Regions from separate parts of the Homo sapiens genome. Here regions 2, 3 and 4 are each linked to region 1. Evidence: fine-mapped expression QTL. A gene starts in region 1. Each other region holds a variant in brackets. All regions are shown on one strand. Distances are from middle to middle.

Region 1 (4,840 bases):
GTGAACCCGGGAGGCAGAGCTTGCAGTGAGACGAGATCCCGCTACTGCACTCCAGCCTGGGAGACAGAGCAAAACTCTTGTCTCAAAAAAAAAAAAAAAAAAAAAAAGAAAAGAAAAGAAAATCGATCGGGTGTGCTGGCGGGCGCCTGTAATCCCACCTACTTAGGAGGCTGAGGCAGAACTGCTTGAACCGGGAAGGCAGAGGCCGCATTAAGCAGAGACTGTGCCACTGCACTCCAGCCTGAGCCACAGAGCGAGACACTGTCTCGAAAGAAAAAAAAACACTGAATACTGATCTAACTAAAACTGGACACAGGTTCAACGGCAGACTACGGAGTTGGGGAGGCCCCGAAGGTGGAAGTGTTTGTGTGTGTGTTTGGGATGAGGGGAAGGAGGTCAGGGGCTACTAAAAATGATACCTACTATACATGGGTTAAATCAATAGACAACAGAAATATAATACCAAATTCAAAAGGTGGAAAGAAGTTTCTCCTGAGGAATATTAAATAAAATAGGGATGAGGGTGATGGGACTGGCTAACTTTTTTTTTTTTTTTTTTGAGACGGAGTCTCGCTCTGTCACCCAGGCTGGAGTGCAGTGGTGTGATCTCGGCTCACTGCAACCTCCACCTCCCGAGTTCAAGCGATTCTCCTGCTCCAGCCTCCTGAGGAGCTGGGACTACAGGCGCGTGCCACCATGCCCAGCTAATTTTTGTGTTTTTAGTACAGACGGGGTTTTACCATGTTGTCCAGGATGGTCTCGATCTCCAGACCTTGTGATCCACCCACCTCAGCCTCCCAAAGTGTTGGGATTACAAGCATGAGCCACCGCGCCAGGAATGGAATGGCTAGTTTTCAACGTGCCTTTTAGAAATACTTCACTAGCCGGGGCGCGGTGGCTCATGCCTGTAATCCCAGCACTTTGGGTGGCTGAGGTGGGAGGATCACTTGAGCCCACGAGTTCGAGACCAGCCTGGGCAACATAGCAAGATGCCATTTCTAAAAAAAAAAAAAAAAAAAAAAATTTAAAAAATTAGCGGGCGTGGCAGCCTGCACCTGCAGTCCCAGCTACTCCAGAGGCTGAGACGGGAGGATCGCTTGAGCCCAGGAGTCTGAGGTTGCAGTGAGCCAAGATCGCATCACTGCACTCCAGCCTAGACAACAGCAAGACCCTGTCTTTAAATAAAACAGAACAGAACAAAGTAAAACAAAGAGAATAGGGACGACTCCTGGGTTGTGTTTTGTTAGTCTGTTTGTTTCTTGTTTGTCTAGTCTTTCAACTGAAGATGTGAATGGGTGAAGATACTTTCAACGAGACGGTTTGTCTGGGGAAGACCAAGAAGGGGGAACAGAAAGATTTCTTCAGTAAGATTCATTCTCACCCCGTTCGGGTTGAGATCCCTAAGGAAAGAAAGTTCTGAGAGGAGAGGATGGGTGGACGTCACAATGAGGCAAAAAGCATCAAAGGGGGAACTTTCTATCAGAACTTTCTAACAACCAGGCGGAGAGCGGACAGCTCTATCTTGGACGGGGTGGTGGCCAGCAGCTCTCTCGGGCCAGGGCTGAAAAAAACCTCCAAGGCTCGGACTGCCGCCCCGACTTCTGAAGCAGCGGTGTCGTTCGGGGCTGACCGACGAGCGTCCCTAGCGACAAGGGGCCGTGTCCATGTGCCGGTTCCCGCGCTGCAAGAGGGGGCGGCGGCCGGAGCTGCCCAACGGGAGGGGAGCACAGAACCGCCACGCGCACACGCCTCGGGCCGGAGCGGCCGAGGATGAGGGGCCTGAGGGAGCGGACGCTCGAGAACAGGAGCCCCCCTGGACCACCTGGGCCACAGGGCAGACGCCCGCGGGGGCAGAGCGCGCCTCACGTGAGGCGTGGGGCGGGGCAATTCGCTTCTCGCCTCAGGCGGAATCGCTCACCCGACGGCACGTAGTCCTCGTCCTCCTCCGACGTAGAGAAGTCTTCGGAGTCGAATTCCTCCATGTTGCTGCCGCTCGACGCTGGTCAAACTCACAAGACCGCAGCAGCCGCCTCCAACGGCAAAGCTCTAGGGAGAGACCATAGAGCCCCGGCGGCGGCGACGGCAGCTAGGGCGGCCCCCGACAGCGCTTTGCACATGCGCAGAGAGTACTACGTGGTTGCCCTACGACACTTCCGGCCGATGCCTCCGGGCTGGCGTCCCTGAAGCCCTCGCTGGGAGCCCGAACCCGCCCGGACGCGGTGCATGCTGGAACTTGTAGTCTTCGGCGCTGCCTCGCCGCCTTAATATAATAAACCTGCTTAAATAAAATTACATATCTATGGAAATACAGGTGACCTTCATTAATCATTAATTCGTAATGCCAAATTCACTTACTTGCTAAAATGTATTTGTAACCCTAAAATCAATCATCACGGTACTGTCTGGGGTTCTTCCCGGGCATGCGCAGAGGGTGAAAATTTGGAGTTGGCGGAGGTAAGGTTCCCAGCTGAAGTTTGAACTGGGAGAAGCGCCGCCTTCTAGTCGCAGCTCCTGTGCTGTAAACAAAGAGTCCTTTCCGCAGTCTGTTTACTGACACTTTTTTTTCTGCTTTTTGTGGGTGGTTTTGCTTTCTAAAATGGCCCCCAAGCGTAGTGCTTAAGCTCTGCCCAGTGTTCCTAAGCGAAAGAAGACCGTGATGTGCCTTACGGAGAAAGTCCGCGTGTTGGATAAGCTCCAATCAGGCATGAGTTACAGTGCTGTTGGCCATGAGCTCAATGTTAACGAGTCGACAATCCGGTACATCAAGAAAAAGGAAAAGGAAATTCACCGATCTGTCCGTGAGGCCGCTCCGGATAGTGCTGAAGTGACCTCCATCGTGCGTGATGAAGCTATGACAAAGATGGAAAAGATGGAAAAGCGGCTAAATTTGTGGATTCATGAGATGTCAATCGATTAAAAAAAACATAGTGGACAGCATTGTGGTGAGGCTGAAAGCCAAAGATATCTGTGGTCACGTTACCCAGAGTCAAAGAAATGCTAAGCCCTTCTCGGCGAGTGCTGGCCGGCTCGCGCGTTTCAAAAGGCGATACGGGGTGAAAAATGTTAAACTTGCAGGTGAGGCGAGCTCTGCAGATCAGGAGGCTGCGGAAGAATTTTAAAAATACTTGCTAAGTGTTATACAGGAAAAGGGTTATGTGAAAGAGCAGGTTTTCAATGCGGATGAGACTGGCTTATTTTACAAGGATGTTGGCAAACGAACCTATATAATGCAAACGGCCTCCAAAGCCCCTGGCTTTAAATCATGCCAGGATCATGCACCCTTGTTATTGTGCGCCAATGCCAAGAGCGACTAAAGTGCAAACTCCTAATGGTGTAAAGAACCCAAAATCCACAAGCACTTAACGGGAAATACGTGAACCATCTGCCAGTCTATTGGAGGTGGAACAAAAAAGTGTGGATGATGTCTGATTGGTTCCACAACTGCTTCATCCCAGAAGCTGAACACTGTCTCCAGGGCAGAAACCTTGCCTTCAAGGGTTTTTTGTTTTGTTTTGTTTTGTTTTTTGTTTGTTTGGGTTTGTTTTGTTTTGGTTTGGTTTTGAAACGGAGTCTCGCTCTGTCGCCCAGGCTGGAGTGCAGTGGCGCAATCTCGGCTCACTGCAAGCTCCGCCTCCCGGGTTCACGTCATTCTCCTGCCTCAGCCTCCCGAGTAGCTGGGACTACAGGCGTCCACTACCACGCCTGGATAATTTTTTGTATTTTCAGTAGAGACGGGGTTTCACCGTGTTAGCCAGGATGGTCTTGATCTCCTGACCTCATGATCCGCCTGCCTCGGCCTCCCAAAGTGTTGGGATTACAGGCGTGAGCCACCGCGCCGGGCACCTTCAAGGTTTTGTTAATTTTGGATAATGCTACAATCCATTGCTGCAAAGAACTCGAAAATGCACACGCCAACATAGGAGTTCTTTTTATGCCCCCAAACACTAAGTCTCTCATCCAACCCCTCAATCGGGGCATAATAAAAGCATTCAAGGCACACTACACAAGGGAGCTTTATATGAAGGCCTGTGAGGCTCTCAGGACCAACAAGGAAACCACCATGCTGGACTATTGGAAGTCGGTCACTACATGCAACGTTATTGATTATGTCAGTACAGCCTGGGAGAGCATTGGTCAGGCTACTACCAATAACTGTTGGGAAAATGTTTGGCCAGACTGCGTGGAGAATTTTGAAGGGTTTGAAGGTGTTACAGAAAATATAAAGAACACTGTCAGAGACATAATGCATATGGCACAGCAGGTAAGTGGAGAGGGCTTTGATGACGTGAAGGAAGGAGATGTGGAGTACATTTTGGCAGAGAAGGCAGTGGAACCAACCAACGAAGACCTGGATGAGATGGCAAAAGAAGGCATTGGAGTTGATGGCCATGAAAGTCGGCCCAAGACTTCCAGAATTGTCCCTCTCACAGCGCCAAAATATCAGAATGGAGTTCTGCCTTGGAAAAAATTTTTAGCGACATGGAAGAGTGTGACCCTACGCTTGATCGAAGCCTCAAATTTAAATGGCTGGCCTCCACTGCGTTTGCCCCTTATACCGAGATGCTTAAAGATTTCAGGCAGAAAAGCCAGGCAGGCAAGGCTAATGCAATTTCTCAAGCCAGTTTGGGAGGGAAGATTGCCCACTCCTTCAACAAGTGTCAAGAGCCAGACTCCTAAGGTAGAAATGCCAGAGGTTGACCTGCCACCCTCTTCCTCTTCTGCAGAATAAATTTCACTCACCCCTCCCCTGGTTTCTGTGGGGCAAGCCAAGGTCGAGAGGTTTAACCACATTGTGCAGCTCCATCAACCGTAAGATTTTAGTTGATATTTTTATAAAACT
Region 2 (4,840 bases), 140 kb before region 1:
ACAGCAAGAAATGGAATGCAGTCTTAGGTAACCTGTCATCACCCAAACCTGTCATGGTACTCGGGTAACACACATGCACATGCAGGCACACACACCAGAAGCAGGTTGTGGGGTTTCCCGCTTATTAATATGAATGGTCTCTATCCCTCTTTCCCTCTTCACTGAAGATGTTACTCTCTTACTCTCCTCCCTGCTGTTCTGCAAAGAATGTCTGACTCTAAGCAGGAAGTTTGAAATTTACATTTTCTTATGAGTATAAAAAAGAAAATCCTTCAGAATATTCTTTGACAAACTAAAAATTAATGAATTATTGAAGTGGGAGCATATCTGAATTTAACTTTTCTTTGGGAAGAGGAAAAAGGCTGAAGGGAAAAAACAGCTAATTCAGCAATAATATATCCTTATTTTCAGCCTTACATGCCATCAGTAGGAATCCATTCAGGAGAAAGAGAGATCAGAAGAGAAGCCCGAGTGGAAATGAGAACAAGCTGCGAAGGGGCCTGGCATTCCAGTCACTCTAGTGAGCCGCCTCCTCTAGGTCTTCGGGGCAAGGCTGGCTGCAGAAAGAGCCTCTTGGCCCCGGAAAATTCACACCCAGGTTGGTCAGCTATCTTCACCATGCCTGGCAAGACCTCTGCCAGCCTGGACAGACCTGGAATGTGCTGTCTTGAACTGGGTGGGACTTTGCGGCAGAATAAAGGGAAGGTGAGCGAGGTCGTCATCTTCATTATCCTCTCACAGGACCAACTTTTATTTTATTTATTCATTTAAGGACAAATTTTTAAAAGTAAAGTGAATGAAACCATTTGTGATTAAGATACATAGACAGAACTTCAATGTAGAAAAAAAAAAGACCTTGCTGGGAAACAGATGATGAGAAACACTGTAAAACATTTCACAGACGCACAAAAAGCTCACATTGTAAACAGGATTAAGCTGCTCTTGATTTAGCCCGTAACATCAAGGTTTCATTTTGCTCAGCCTGAGATCTCGCTCAATTTCAAACTGCCTGTGATCCACTCGGTCAAGGAAGGCTTTCCGTTCAATGTACCTAGAAGATGAAAACAGTGTTTGTCAGTAGAATCCAGTAGGAAAAACTCCTCCCCTGCACAGTCCCATCCCCCAGGGATAAACTAAGTTACAGTAAATGGTGCCGAGAGTGACCACCCATGACTCTTCCAGTACAATCCAAACCACTCACATTTGGTCTAAACAAGGATGGTGAAAATAAAAGGAAGGCAACAGCTTATCAATGAGAAAGTATATTAGAGGCTGGGTGGCAGGAAGATGTTGCAATTTTCTAACAAGACTTTAAGGGCAGAAGAAAGAATACCGGTTTACACAAGCATGGGTTCAAGTCCTAGCTCTAGCTCACTGATTAGCTGGGCAAAGGAATGAACATCTTTGAGCCTCACTTTTCTCTACAGCAGCATGGTGATGCTGTTTTTCTTGGCTTTAGTGGTGTGTTGAATTGGTGGGTAAGAGAAAGCTAGGCCTCCTGCATACATACATCAAAACATGAAAAGGGGGCATGTGGTAATGAAGGAAAGAAGACAGTAAAAATGACCTCACAGGACTGCAGTGAAGGTGAAGTGAGCTGAGGTTCATAAAGTGCACACTTTAGAAGTGATTTAACTGCTTTGAGCTCTTTTCTTCCCCTCATCCTTTTCTCCTCTCCGCAGTATCCTCCACCCTGTTTGCGTCTAGGTTGCTTCTGCTAAGATGACAGGAGAACTCTTTCCCTAAATGCCTCTAAGAGAATGAGTTTAAGGGCCTCTGATCTCTCCTTTCAAGGATCCCCTTGAAAGGTGGACACTCTGCTCCCTAATCTGGTTGGGTTCAGCAAACTTTCCCTCTGTCCTCCAGGCAGGACGGGAAAGCAGCAAGGGCTGAAGCACAGGCGCGCTTGCTAGGAGTGAGGCTGGCTGCTTAATGAGACACAGCTGCATCTTAATGCACCTCCTCACCATAAAGCGTGCTGCGATTTGCCTGGGCGGAGGAGATCTCTGCTGCTAATTAATCTATGGAGAGAGCAAAAATTGCCATGGAAAATGGGAGACAAAATTGAATCTCTGCACTAATTTTTCTTTTGTTGCACTGTGGAAAATATGCATCTGTCATTACAAAGTCATTACATTTATAGTGAGAATGCTACCAGGTTCAGAAACCTGTGTTCCCCTGCTGAGTCCAGGGCCTTGCTTTCCCTTCCA[A/G]CAGCATCCTAGGAAGTACCATCCATCCTACCTCATTTCCAGCTAGGCCTGACTACCCTGACCCTTCTGGAGGGCTGGCCAGAAATGTACAGGCTCTGAGGCCAGAGGGCTGGAGGTTTGAGTTCTGTCATTTGCTGTCTGTGACTCTGCAAGTCACTTAACCTTGCTAGTTCTGTTTCCTAATCTGTAATAAAGATAATAAATAATGGCTAGTCATCTCCACTCTGAAGGACTGTTGTGTGGATTAAATAAAATAGTGTCTACATCACACAGGGCACAGAGCAGGTACTCAATAAAATGACAGGTAATGTTATCATGGTTTTAGGAAGCCAGCTTCCAACAGGCTCCCAAGGACAGTAGATGGCCCAAGTCTGGACTTATGGTTTCAGCAATGAGGAACCAAAACACCTGGTCTGGCTCAGGTACTAAGCTGCTGTGTCAAAACCGTCAATGAGGCCAGAATGGCTGGAAACACAATGACAGGGCCTGCTCTTAGGTTTGATAAAAGCCCTTGGGGTCAGGATTGTCAGATTTAACAAATAAAATTACAGGCTGCCTGGCTGAATTCGAACTTCAGAGTCCCTGGCAGTCAGGGAAGCTGCAGACAGCATGGACCCCTTTAGATAAAAAGAGAAAAAGGGAAGACAGGTAGGGAAGTGTAGACATCTAACAACAAACTTACTTCCCACCTCCCACTAAGAGACCCGTGATTCTTGAGTGGGGGCTGCTAACCAAAATGGTCTCAGAGGCACGTTCACTACAACTGGTCATCTTTCCACCCCAGCCCCACCAGCCCAAGGGAGGCTCACTACCACGGGGACCAGGATTTTGACAGCACTGCACTTTAACTGTCCCCTGGAAGTGCTAGCAGAAAAAAGAGAGGTGAGCCTCAGCATGAGATCTTGCTGTGCTGTTGTTCACCTGGGGGTGTAAGAGGAATTTAGGGTGTGTTTCAAGAGCCATCTTCCAGTGCTACCTGTCTGGGAGATCAGGTGGAGGGAAGGAGTAAGTATGTGGCTTTAAGCATTTGGGGTCTTTCTTCCTGACTTTATTTTTTTAAGACAGGGTCTTGCTTTGTGGCTCAGGCTGGAGTGCAGTGGTGCACAGTTCACTGCAGCCTCGACCTCTCAGGCTCAAACAATCCTCCTGCTTCAGCCTCTCAGGTAGCTGGGACCACAGGCACACACCACCACACCTGGCTAATTTTAAATCTTTTGTAAAGATAGGGTCTCTCCATGTTGCCCATGCTGGTCTCGAACTCCTGGGCTCAAGCGATCCTCACCTTGGCCTCCCAAGTGCTAGGATTACAGGTGAGAGCCATCGGGCCCAGCCCTGACTTTCCTGTAAATAAGAAGTGACACTTAAATGAGGATGCTAACTGGGTACGAATAAAGGTCCTGCACGTTCCCAGAAGCTGTGTTGGGTCCAGCTGACTTTGAGACTATCAAGAGTGAAGCCCAGGTTGGGTGCTAAACAGGCAGGTGCAGTCAGAGTTTAGGTTTAGGGAGGCCTCAGGCAGCAGTGAGGGGAACATGTGCAGGATGCAACTGAATTCTCAAGGGCAACCCAGACAAAGGCCATCAAGGCAGGTCTGGTGACTATTCCCCAATTCACAGCCATCTGCAGCTGCTAACAGGATGCCTGTGACGGCCTTGGTTTACTGCCAAGAGCTGACCATGAACAAAACTACTTGATATGGACTCTCCCACTGCCAAGAGACAGAAAAGGTACTAAGAATGACAGTAGCTCTGACATTTAGTTTTTGTGTGACTTTGGGCAAGATACTTAATTTTCTGTGCCTTTTTTTCCTTCTCTGTAAAACAGAATAACAATTACAATAACCCTCTGGCAATCCAATGAAACTGTGAGAAGTGCTTTGTATACAATAAAACAAAAAATAGCTATGGGAGTTGTCATGGGCTTGGGGTTCTTGCTTCCCATTTCTTGTGTGTGTGTGTGTGTGTCTGTGTGTGTGTGTGTGTGTGTGTGTGTGTTTTTAGTAGAGATGGGGTTTTGCCATGTTGGTCAGGCTGGTCTTGAACTCCTGGCCTCAAGTAATCTGCCCGCCTCAGCCTCCCGAAGTGCTGGGATTACAGGCGTGAGCCACTCTGCCCGGTCTTGCTTCACATTTCTTCTGACTTGACTTTACCTCTACAGAACCTCAAAACCCAGGGCAACCGGAACAGAGACCAAGAGACTAAATGTCCCTGAAAGAGGAAGGGCTCATTAGAAAGGCCACCTCCTCAAAGGTGGCCACTGAGACTCAGGACATTTTCATGCACTTTAAATGGGTCACGGTCCCAGAACAGACCCACCTGAGGACAAGTGCAATGGGAATCACGGCTCTTGCTCTTGATGTGTCCGGGTGCTTTTCTGGCCTGTGCGCAGCCCTTTTGGGGGCCCAGCATGACTCAGCCCAGTCCACAGGGAAGCCTAGTGGTGGGGGATGCATCATCCCTTTCTGCTTCCATTGCCTTCTGTGGCCCATTTAAGAGGCTCTTCACTTTCTTTAATAAAATATGCTAAGAACCTAAGGGATTTTCTAGTTTTTCCTTTTAGAACCAGGTTAGGCACAACAGGCTCTGACATCTTTTGAATCTTCCAACCCAAATTATTTATCTGCCACCAAT
Region 3 (4,840 bases), 120 kb before region 1:
GTCAAAACAATAGACAATGCAGATCCGGGACAAAGGAAGATCTCTCCCAACTCTCAGGGTGGTGCACTGTGCTATCTCGCCTCCAGATGAGAAGTGACTTGAGAGATTTTCTCATTAGTTACTTTACTTCCCAGTTTGCTTAAGAGAACTCCAAATAGCTCTTTATGAGCTTTCAATTCATATCTTCTAAGCACTGTTTTCCAGACAACTCAACCCCTACAATGTCATATGTGCGCGTGATCACACACACACACACACACACACACGCACACACACACACTTTCTTTTTCACCATTTTACCAGGAACGGAGCATGAGTGGGGATATGGAAACTTACTGTGTCTCAAATCTTTTTCCTTCTCATCTTCCTTACTGCTACTGCCCGAATTCTCATTCTTATATCACCTGGATAATTGAACAGCCTCTTTACTGGTCTCCCTGACCTGTTTTTCCCCATCCTCACTCAGTGGCCCTATCCTGGTATCTAGTGACATGCTGTAATTAGACTGAATTTTCCAAAACACAAAGCTTAGCATGTCTTTCTGCTTAAATGTCTCTTCACTGACCCCTTTTTATTTTTATTTATTTTTATTTTTTGAGACGGAGTTTCTCTCTTGTTGCCCAGGCTGGAGTGCAGATGCGTGATCTCGGCTCACTGCAACCTCCGCCTCCCGGGTTCAAGCGATTCTCCTGTCTCAGCCTCCCAAGTAGCTGGGATTACAGGCGCCTGCCACCACACCTGGCTAATTTTTTGTATTTTTAGTAGAGACGGGGTTTTGCCATGTTGGGCAGGCTGGTCTCAAACTCCTGACCTCGGGTGATCTGCCCACCTCGGCCCCCCAAAGTGCTGGGATTACAGGTGTGAGCCACTGCGCCCAGGCCCACTGACCCCTTTTTAAAACATAATAATTAAAATAAATTTTTATGTATTTACTTTTTTAGAGACAGGTTCTCACTCTGTTACCCAGGCTAGAGTACACCAGTGAAACCACAGCTTACTACAGCCTCAACCTCCCTGGGTCAAGTGATCCTCCCACCTCAGTCTCCTGAGGTGCAGAGACTACAGGTGTGTGCCACCACGTTCAACTATCTTTTTTATGTTTTGTAGAGACAGGGTCTTGCTATGTTGCCCAAGGCTGGTATCAAACTCTTGGACTCAAGCAATCCTCCTGCCTTGGCCTCCCGAAGTACTGGGATTATAGGCACAAGCCACCATATTAAGCCTTATCTCAGCTTTAAAACCACTTCCTCCAGGAAGCCTTCCCTAACCTCTAGATTAGGTGTCCCTGGTGGTATTTCTATCATACCAGTTCTTTTCATATGGGAACACTGATCTTTTCTTTAGATGCTTGTGAACTCTTATTTCAGCTGCAGCTGCACTAGATGGTTCTGGGCAAGTGCAGACTCACTGTTGACAACACCCCACCAAAAGCATACGCATGAGGACTTTCCATTTCTGGCTGCAGGGTCTCCTCTGAGCCTGCCTGCATGCCACAAGTACTGCCTGGACAGGTGGTGGAGCTCAAGCCATTGGGGCTAGCCTGAAGGAACACAAAAGCTGGTGGTTAAACGGCCAGCCTCCTACCCTCACAAGGTAGCTATAGGAGGTGGAATGCTTCTCAGAAGTTCTGGTGGCATCAAGCCCTCGTGGCCTTGGAATTGTACTCTTATATTGACTTTTCCTCCTTCCTTGTCTCATTCTTTCCACCACTCACACCTGCTTCCTGGGATCACTTCCCAAATAAACTCCCTGCACTCAAAATCCTTGTCTTATGTTCTGCTTTGAGGGGACTCTAACTAAGGATTTTAGGAGAAAAATTATTTTCCTCGTGTAATCTTTATCTTTCTGTGGCTATTTAAGTTCCTGTGTCTCCAAACCTCTCTACCCATTGATAGAGTTCTGTGAACAGTGAGCACTCAATTAAGTCAACAACGTCACCTGGATTACAGAACCAATTCATGGAAGAGAATCAGATATTCGCAGAACTAAGTATTCTTTAGAGCGCTTCTACACTGGAGATTTTAAGGGGAACAATTCACTTTTATTCTCCCATCAGCTCTCAACAGCCCAAGGTTCCCCATTTAATTTGGGCAGCACCACAAGCTATGTACGCCACCTCTCCCCTTCAGCCTACAGCTCCAGTGGTATTCCTGGGTGAGGCCATCTTATTGACGAATTACTTTGAGAAGTCTATGAGAAACTTGATTTTTTGATGCACAGCAGTGAGGTTTCCAGAAAAGGAAAAAAACCATAATACCCCTTTGCCTTGCTCACCATTAAACATCAGTAAAATGTCACCTGTGCTATTATG[C/T]TTTTGGGGAAGGCTTCCAACTCTCCTTTCACTGGGTCATTAACAAGGTGTAAGATGTCCTAATGTGATAGTCTCTAAAGCAAAATAATCTGTCTTTTATTTGAGGCTAAATCAAAGTGAATGACACACTGATAGCAGCAGCCAGAACACACAGGGGGCTCATGATAACCAGGAGACCAGCAGCTTCTTCCTAGAACCTGTTTGTGGGCTCCCTCAGGGTTCTGAGCCCTCCCACTCACTCTCCCACCCTGAGAGGGGTTTCAGTGTCCTAATCCTGGTGTCATTTCAGCACAGCTTTCAGAAAGGCAGATTTACTGTGACCTTGCCGCTTTCTCTGCCACAAAGGTACATGAACCAGGCTTTCAGGAAGCCGAGGCGGGAGAGAATCAGTCTCTGGGCAGGGGGCGCTGACCCTATTCTGAGAAAGAACACAGAAAAGCCTACTTCAGCCACGCACCTCCGAGAACTATGGCTAGCAGGGGACAAATCAGCACTGGCTCTCCAGGCATCTGGCAGCTGTGTATATTGGAAAACTGTAGAATGGGGAAGTCAGAATTCCCTTGGAGATTTGTTTTCATCAAGAACCAATCCAACCGGGCGCTGTGGCTCATGCCTGTAATCCCAGCACTTTGGGAAGCCGAGGCGGGCGGATCACAAGGTCAGGAGATCGAGACCATCCTGCCTAACACGGTGAAACCCCGTCTCTACTAAAAATACAAAAAATTAGCCGGGCGTGGTGGCAGGCGCCTGTAGTCCCAGTTACTTGGGAGGCTGAGGCAGGAGAATGGCGTGAACCCAGGAGGCGGAGCTTGCAGTGAGCCAAGATCATGCCACTGCACTCCAGCCTGGGTGACAGAGTGAGACTCCATCTCAAAAAAAAAAAAAAAAAAAAAAAAAACCAATCCAGTTCCAGACCAACAGAACCACTGGTTTCTTTGTTCTTTATCCTAAGCCATAGGGCAAGGTACTGCCAGAAAGTCTGCTTTAACAGACCACTCTCCAGACAACAGTACTTCATTGAGTCAAGAGACTCCTCACCCACCTGTTGCAAGTCAAAGTTCAAAGAAATGCACCATGCACTTGCTCACCCAGATTACATCCCAAATGTTACGCTGAGGCATTCTGGAATGTTATTACCAAGATGTTTCCAATGTCACAATGACATTGCAACCACCTCCTCCTGAACATCACATGACTTTGTTGACCTTACTACCATAAATTTGATGTAAAGACTAATACTGTTCAAGGAGTGTGGACTTTGCTCTCACCAGCCAGCTTCCATGCCATAAGAGAGAGTGGCTGAGTGCAGCTCATACTGGTGAAAGAGACACTTATTTTCCAAGCTTATCTTTCTTGCATATTTTGTTCAGTTATCCATCAATCAGCAATTATCAACTCCCTTCCCACCATGCCAAACCAAGACCTATCATAACACCAGACACCAACCAAGACCTTGATTAAGAAACTCAGAAAAGTAAAAGAGACACAGAATGTAAAATGACAAGTCATCTTTTTCTTTTCTAGGTTCAAAGTTTATAATGATAATTTTCTAGAACTTATTCTGCTTCTCTTTAGCAAAAGAAATGTAATTTTAACAAAAATGTCATTGTAACTAAACAATAAACTTCATCCTGTTGAGTCTGTCACAGAGATATTATGGTAACTTGTTTACTTTGTTCCATGTCCACCAGCATTGACTTGGATTTGTCCAACCGATTTATTTTGTAGCAAGAGCACTGTTCTATCTGACCACCCTCAGCAATGCCCGGGATCCTGCTGTTTGTTTAAAAGAGGTACTGGAAAGGAGCTGGGAGAGTAACTTGCCAAGTGGAAAGGCTGACAGGGCTTACCAACTGTTTGTGAAGGATGGTAGAAGATCTTTCCCGGAGATCTTTAAAATCATCCCCAGGTACCCAGCTGTTTCACAGAATAGAATTTTAGCTTTGGAAAGGAATTCAGAGTCATTCATTCATTGCATTCATTCAACAGAGATTACTGAGAACTTACTCTCTACCAGACACTGTGCTCAGAATGGGGATATAAAAATATACAAAGCTTAATTTTCGGCTTCAAAACAAAAATCTAGTGGAGGACAGATCAACATACAGGCAAACTGTAACCACATATTATGAGGGCACAAAAGAAGAGCTGAAGGGATGTTTAGTCCAACCTCCTTATTTTATAGATCAGTCAACTAAACTCCAAAAGGTTAAGAAACCTGCCCAAGTTTATAGCAGGAGACTTGGGGTTAGTACTCAGTGCTTTTGATGCCCAGACTACTGTCTTTTCCACCTTGCTTGGTGCTAGATTTAAGTCCAAGTAGCTGGGACTATAGACATATGTCACCAAACCCAGATAATTTAAAAAACGTCTTTGTACAGACAGGGATCTTGCTATTTTGCCCAGGCTGGTCTCGAACTCCTGGCCTCAATCATCCCACTTTGGCCTCTCAAAGTGCTGGGATTACAGGTGTGAGCCACTATGCCCAATCTACTACATTTTTAATGTACTAAATCCTCATTATTTGAC
Region 4 (4,840 bases), 62 kb before region 1:
TTTTCATTGTGGGTATCAGTACTTTCCTTTTTACATTTTTCAATAACTTAAAGAAAGTAAGGATAAAATGGAATAAAATATTCCAATACTTGCACAAACATGTCTTGCTTTATGAAGACCAAAACATTTATGTGGCCAATCAGCTAATGTATCAAATTCAAGGTTTGGTTAAAAATAGGCACATCAGAAATGTAAGTGTAATATGTGTAAATGAGTTGCTCAAAAGTCCAAAGTAAATACAGTCCTCCTCTCCTCAGTATAGTTTTTGAACGTAAATAAGACTGATTTCGTCAGGCATAGGAGAAATTATTTTTATTTAGGGAATAATAAAAAAAGTAGCTTAAAATACATATTGCAGGCCAGGCGCAGTAGCTCATGCCTGTAATCCAAGCACTTTAGGAGGTCAAGGCAGTATTGCTTGAGCCCAGGAGTTCAAGACTAGCCTTAGCAATATAGCAAAAGTTCGCTTCAAAAAAAACAAAAACAAAACAACCCACAAAAAAACAAAAAGCCAAAAAACCCGCACACTGCTATACAGAATTCTAGCTAGATGCAGGCTTCTGCTTTAACTATTATATACATTTAGACACATGGCTTCGCAGTAGGTTGCCTATTTATTCTCCAATAATCTAAACAGTGTATTGACAGAGACGTATGTGTCCACACTTGTTTCTTCTGATGAAACTGGAAAAGCAATTTGCAAATCTGTCTACCAGAAACAAAGAAAACTAAGTAAGACCAGATTATTCTCTAGTGCTCAGAGTCTCAACAGCAGGTTAAGGAACCAGAGTTTCCAAACTGGCCTCCTTTTGTTTGACCAACACTTTACTTACTTACTTACTGTATTTATTTGTTTATGAGACAGAGTCTCACTGTGTCACCCAGGCTGGAGTGCAGTGAAGCGATCTTGGCTCACTAAAACCTCCGCCTCCCAGGTTCACGTTCAAGCGATTCTCATGCCACAGCCTCCCCAGTGGCTGGAACTACAGGCCTGCACCACCAAGCTCAGCTAATTTTTGTATTATTATTATTATTATTTTTAGTAGAGACAGGGTTTCACCATGTCGTCCAGGCTGGTCTCAAACTCCTTACCTCAAGTGATCTGCCCACCTCGGCTCTCAAAGTGTTGGGATTACAGGCGTGAGCCACCATGCCTGGCCTTGAATTTTTTCTATTATTTATTACTTTTTTTTTTTTGAGGCAGAGTTTCGCTCTTGTTGCCCAGGCTGGAGTGCAATGGTGTAATCTTGGCTCACTGCAACCTCTGCCTCCCAGGTTCAAGTGATTCTCCTGCCTTGGCCTCCCAAGTAACTGGGATTACAGGTGCCTGCCACCACACCCAGCTAATTTTTGTATTTTTAGTAGAGATGGGGTTTCGCCATGTTGGCCAGGCTGGTCTCGAACTCCTGACCTCAGGTGATCCACTGACCTTGGCCTCCCAAAGTGCTGGGATTACCAACGTGAGCCACCACGCTCGGCCAAATTTTTTCTATTTTAAAAATAATGTGGAGGGAGGAATAGCATTAGGAGATATACCTAATGTAAATGATGAGTTGATGGGTGCAGCACACCAACATGGCACATGTATACATATGTAACAAACCTGCACGTTGTGCACATGTACCCTAGAACTTAAAGTATAATAAAATAATAATAATAATAATGTGTGGCAGGGTGCAGTAGCTGACGCCTGTAATCCCAGCACTTTAGGAGGCTGAGGAGGGCGGATCACCTGAGGTCAGGAGTTCCAGACCATTCTGGCCAACATGGCAAAACCCCGTCTCTACTAAACATACAAAAATTAGCTGGTGTGGTGGCATGTGCCTGTAATCCCAGCTACTTGGGAAGCTGAGGCACAAGAATCGCTTGAACCCAGCAGGCAGAGGCTGCAATGAGCCAAGATCATACCACTGCACTCCAGCCTGGGTGACAGAGCAAGACTGTCTCAAAAATTTAAAAAAAGAATTAAAAAAAACTTAAAGATCCATTTGCAGAAATCAACTCACTTGCAAAAGGACTTGCTTACTACAAAATTCAGGTTGGGATCTATCTCACTTTGTTAGTTTATTCATTTATCAAATATGCCCTATATGAGCATATACTGTGCCAAGTGCAGAAAAAAGCCAATTCCAGAATTGTAAAAAACAAACTATCACATGTTCATGTGGACTTCACTGTAGTGTTCCGCAGGGTTTCTTAACTTGGGAACTACTAACATTTTGAATAAGCCAATTCTTTGTTTCGAGCTGTCCTTTGTACCGCAGGATGTTTAGCAGCATCTCAAACTTTTTACCCTCTAAATGCCAGTAGCATCCCCTGCCTTGCCCAGGTTATACAACCAGAAATGTCTCTAGACACTGCCAAAAGTCCCCTAGGACAAATACAAGTTAAAACATTTTAAGTAATGTCAACATAATATGATACAATTTC[A/ATAAT]TAATTATATATCTCTCTCTAAAGATGATTAAACACTGGCTAATGTCTTAAGTAAATAAAACTGTGGAGATTAAAATAGTGATGTCAAAGCAGATTAAGAAACCTGAATGGGGGGCGAGGTTAAAAAAACTGAACAAAGTTCTTATATATTCAAATGTTTTTTAAAAACTAACCTTAAGCGTTTTGGTTAAGCTTCCTTTGTAGTTGGGAAATTCCTGTTCTGCTAATTCAGGCTCTTTTCTAAAAACAGGTTTATATATTTTAGTACATAAAAATATTACTATAGCCTAACATTCATAGGAAGAATCTCTTGGTCTTTTCTGAGAACCTCTCAAGTGTTTTGTTACATATTAGAATAATCAGAGGAAAGAAAAGTAAGTGAATTTCAGTCTTGGTGTATTCTCCTCCAACTCAAAGGTTTCATTTAGTAGGAAGAGGATGAAAATGTTGATTAAATCTATATACGTTTTTAATAGTTTTAAGTTTCATTTATTTGTTAAGTCTACTGTTTCCTTGATGATTTTATAATTTCCTTGTCCTAATACGAACTAGTAAGTGAAGATCAACCTTGTTATTTAAAATAGGGAAAAGGGAAAAACTACTAATTTTCATTGAGTCCTTCTGTGCCAGGAACTGTAGTGACACCTTATCTCATTTCATTCTCAAAACAGCTCTATGAAGTAGGAATTATGATCCCTATTTTACAGCTAAAAGAATTAAGTAAAACTATTATTTGCACCAGGCAATCCTGTTCAAGTCAAAAGCATATATAATACTCTACCTATTTCTAAAAAAGGAGCCAGCAATAACCATGACAGCTTTCTCTTCCCTATACTGTAAAATATAAGAAGTCCAAAGTAATAGCTATAAGAAGGGTTTTAATCTGAAGAGTTTGACAGAGAACTAAGAATCCCCAAATAATCAAAAAGAAAAACTCATCACATCTAGTGGTAACAAAATTCGGATATATATGGTTTTCATATCTGTTCATGAATAACTCAACAATGGGCAGCAAAAACACACCCACAATTTCAAGACTCTGGCCAGGAGTGCTGACCAGCCTCAATAAAATGTCAGCTTGCTGCCAAAGGATCCAGATCAGTGGAATTGTCCAGTTCTCTAAGGAGACAATGCAGAGTTGCCTGCAGACTGGTTCTGAAATCGAACCAGAACTAGAACTTAAAAACAAAAAGCAGATCAATCTCTAGGCATCAAATTTCTTCTTCCTGAAAGAATAAACAGAAAACCTAAGTGAGTTATTCTAGCTGTACCTCAATCCAGGGTTTAGTCTGGAAGCCAATCTACTTGCTCAACTGTTTGCAAAGTTCATTCAACTCTTCCTCCCAGGTTTTGTTTCATGAGAGAAAAATAAAACCATCATCTTTTGGCAAGATGGAGTATTAACTTTTCTCCTGGTATTGCTGTCACTCACAGTTAAAAGAAAATGCACGCACACACAAATACATACCCTTTAAATGTCTAATTTAAATCCTAAATAACCCAGAGTACATGTGAGGGAGGAGAAAATAAAAGCCTTAGCAAGGAATATTTTAGTTCCAAAATTCTAAAGGCAAACTGCTAACTGAAAAGGGAAATTAACTTTATCAACTGTAAAAGAAAAAAATTCAACATCTTGTTGTTTTAAAGGAGTTCCCCGGCATGGAAGCAGATCATACACTTGATTCCTGATGCAGGAACTGAAACAACTCTGGCCCAGAGATAAAAGGGTGACAATTTGCTTGACACACCTATGCTGGAGCAGCTACTCCCATCTGTCTACTTTCCCTCCTTCCCCTAAAAGCTACTTAAGTCTCGGTTTATCCAGTTACATGTGCTAAGTGAAAAGAAGGCATAATTCCCAAGCCACGTTTTTGGAAATAACATGGTGACCCATTTCAACACTTACACACACAGATGTTAAATTAGCCAAAGTATATTTAAATAATCTCATCTCATTCATTCTTGCTAATGCTCATAGATTCATTATCGTATTGGACTTTCTTCCCACAAAATGACTGGCCTTATACCAAGTTTTATAAATATTAAAAAGGTTGTTTTGTACTAAAAAAGAAAATAACTGGAGGAGAGGGAAGCTTCTCAAAAGAACTTTCACATGGTGGGTAATATAAATGTCGCTAAGATAAGATACACAACGCTGGATTCTTTTTCTCTGTGACCCCTGCCCACCCCCCATTCTACCTAAACTCACTGTGTAACTAATCATGAACAAAAGAGAGGCACAGTTTGAATTTCAGCTAGAGATACACACTGTATTCAAAGGGTTTGCTTCCCTAAAGACTGTATTCTTTTTATTTTTATTTATTTATTTTGGTATGAACGGGGTCTCCCTATGTTGCCCTGGCTGGTCTGAAACTCCTGGCTACAAGACTGTATTCTGCTCTAGATACGA

What was found. PIP is the estimated chance that this variant, and not a neighbour inherited with it, causes the effect.
Region 2: its variant is the best candidate, but not a certain one, in a credible set for the expression of CFDP1 in thyroid (GTEx, PIP 0.55).
Region 3: its variant is the best candidate, but not a certain one, in a credible set for the expression of CFDP1 in tibial artery (GTEx, PIP 0.75).
Region 4: its variant is the best candidate, but not a certain one, in a credible set for the expression of CFDP1 in visceral fat (GTEx, PIP 0.52).

What each region holds. Positions count from the first base shown.
Region 1 is chr16:75,431,371-75,436,210 of GRCh38, forward strand. It overlaps CFDP1 (craniofacial development protein 1), which reads right to left and starts at 2,133. Exons shown (of 7, transcript NM_006324.3): 1 at 1,919-2,133. The coding sequence starts at 1,982. It overlaps LOC124903723 (tigger transposable element-derived protein 1-like), which reads left to right and starts at 3,834. Exons shown (of 1, transcript XM_047435019.1): 1 at 3,834-4,840. The coding sequence starts at 3,932. The coding sequence ends at 4,729. RefSeq lists silencers at 113-312, 1,569-1,808 and enhancers at 2,119-2,628, 2,172-2,739.
Region 2 is chr16:75,292,992-75,297,831 of GRCh38, forward strand. It overlaps CFDP1 (craniofacial development protein 1), which reads right to left. Exons shown (of 7, transcript NM_006324.3): 7 at 719-1,051. The coding sequence ends at 961. Among named protein-coding and RNA genes, the nearest start is that of BCAR1, 44 kb to the left of the region's middle. The variant A/G (reference allele first, on the strand shown) is at 2,211.
Region 3 is chr16:75,306,637-75,311,476 of GRCh38, forward strand. All of the region lies in intron 5 of CFDP1 (craniofacial development protein 1), which reads right to left. Among named protein-coding and RNA genes, the nearest start is that of BCAR1, 57 kb to the left of the region's middle. RefSeq lists an enhancer at 1,002-1,502. The variant C/T (reference allele first, on the strand shown) is at 2,312.
Region 4 is chr16:75,368,913-75,373,752 of GRCh38, forward strand. The region is part of intron 5 of CFDP1 (craniofacial development protein 1); the gene reads right to left. Among named protein-coding and RNA genes, the nearest start is that of CFDP1, 62 kb to the right of the region's middle. The variant A/ATAAT (reference allele first, on the strand shown) is at 2,431.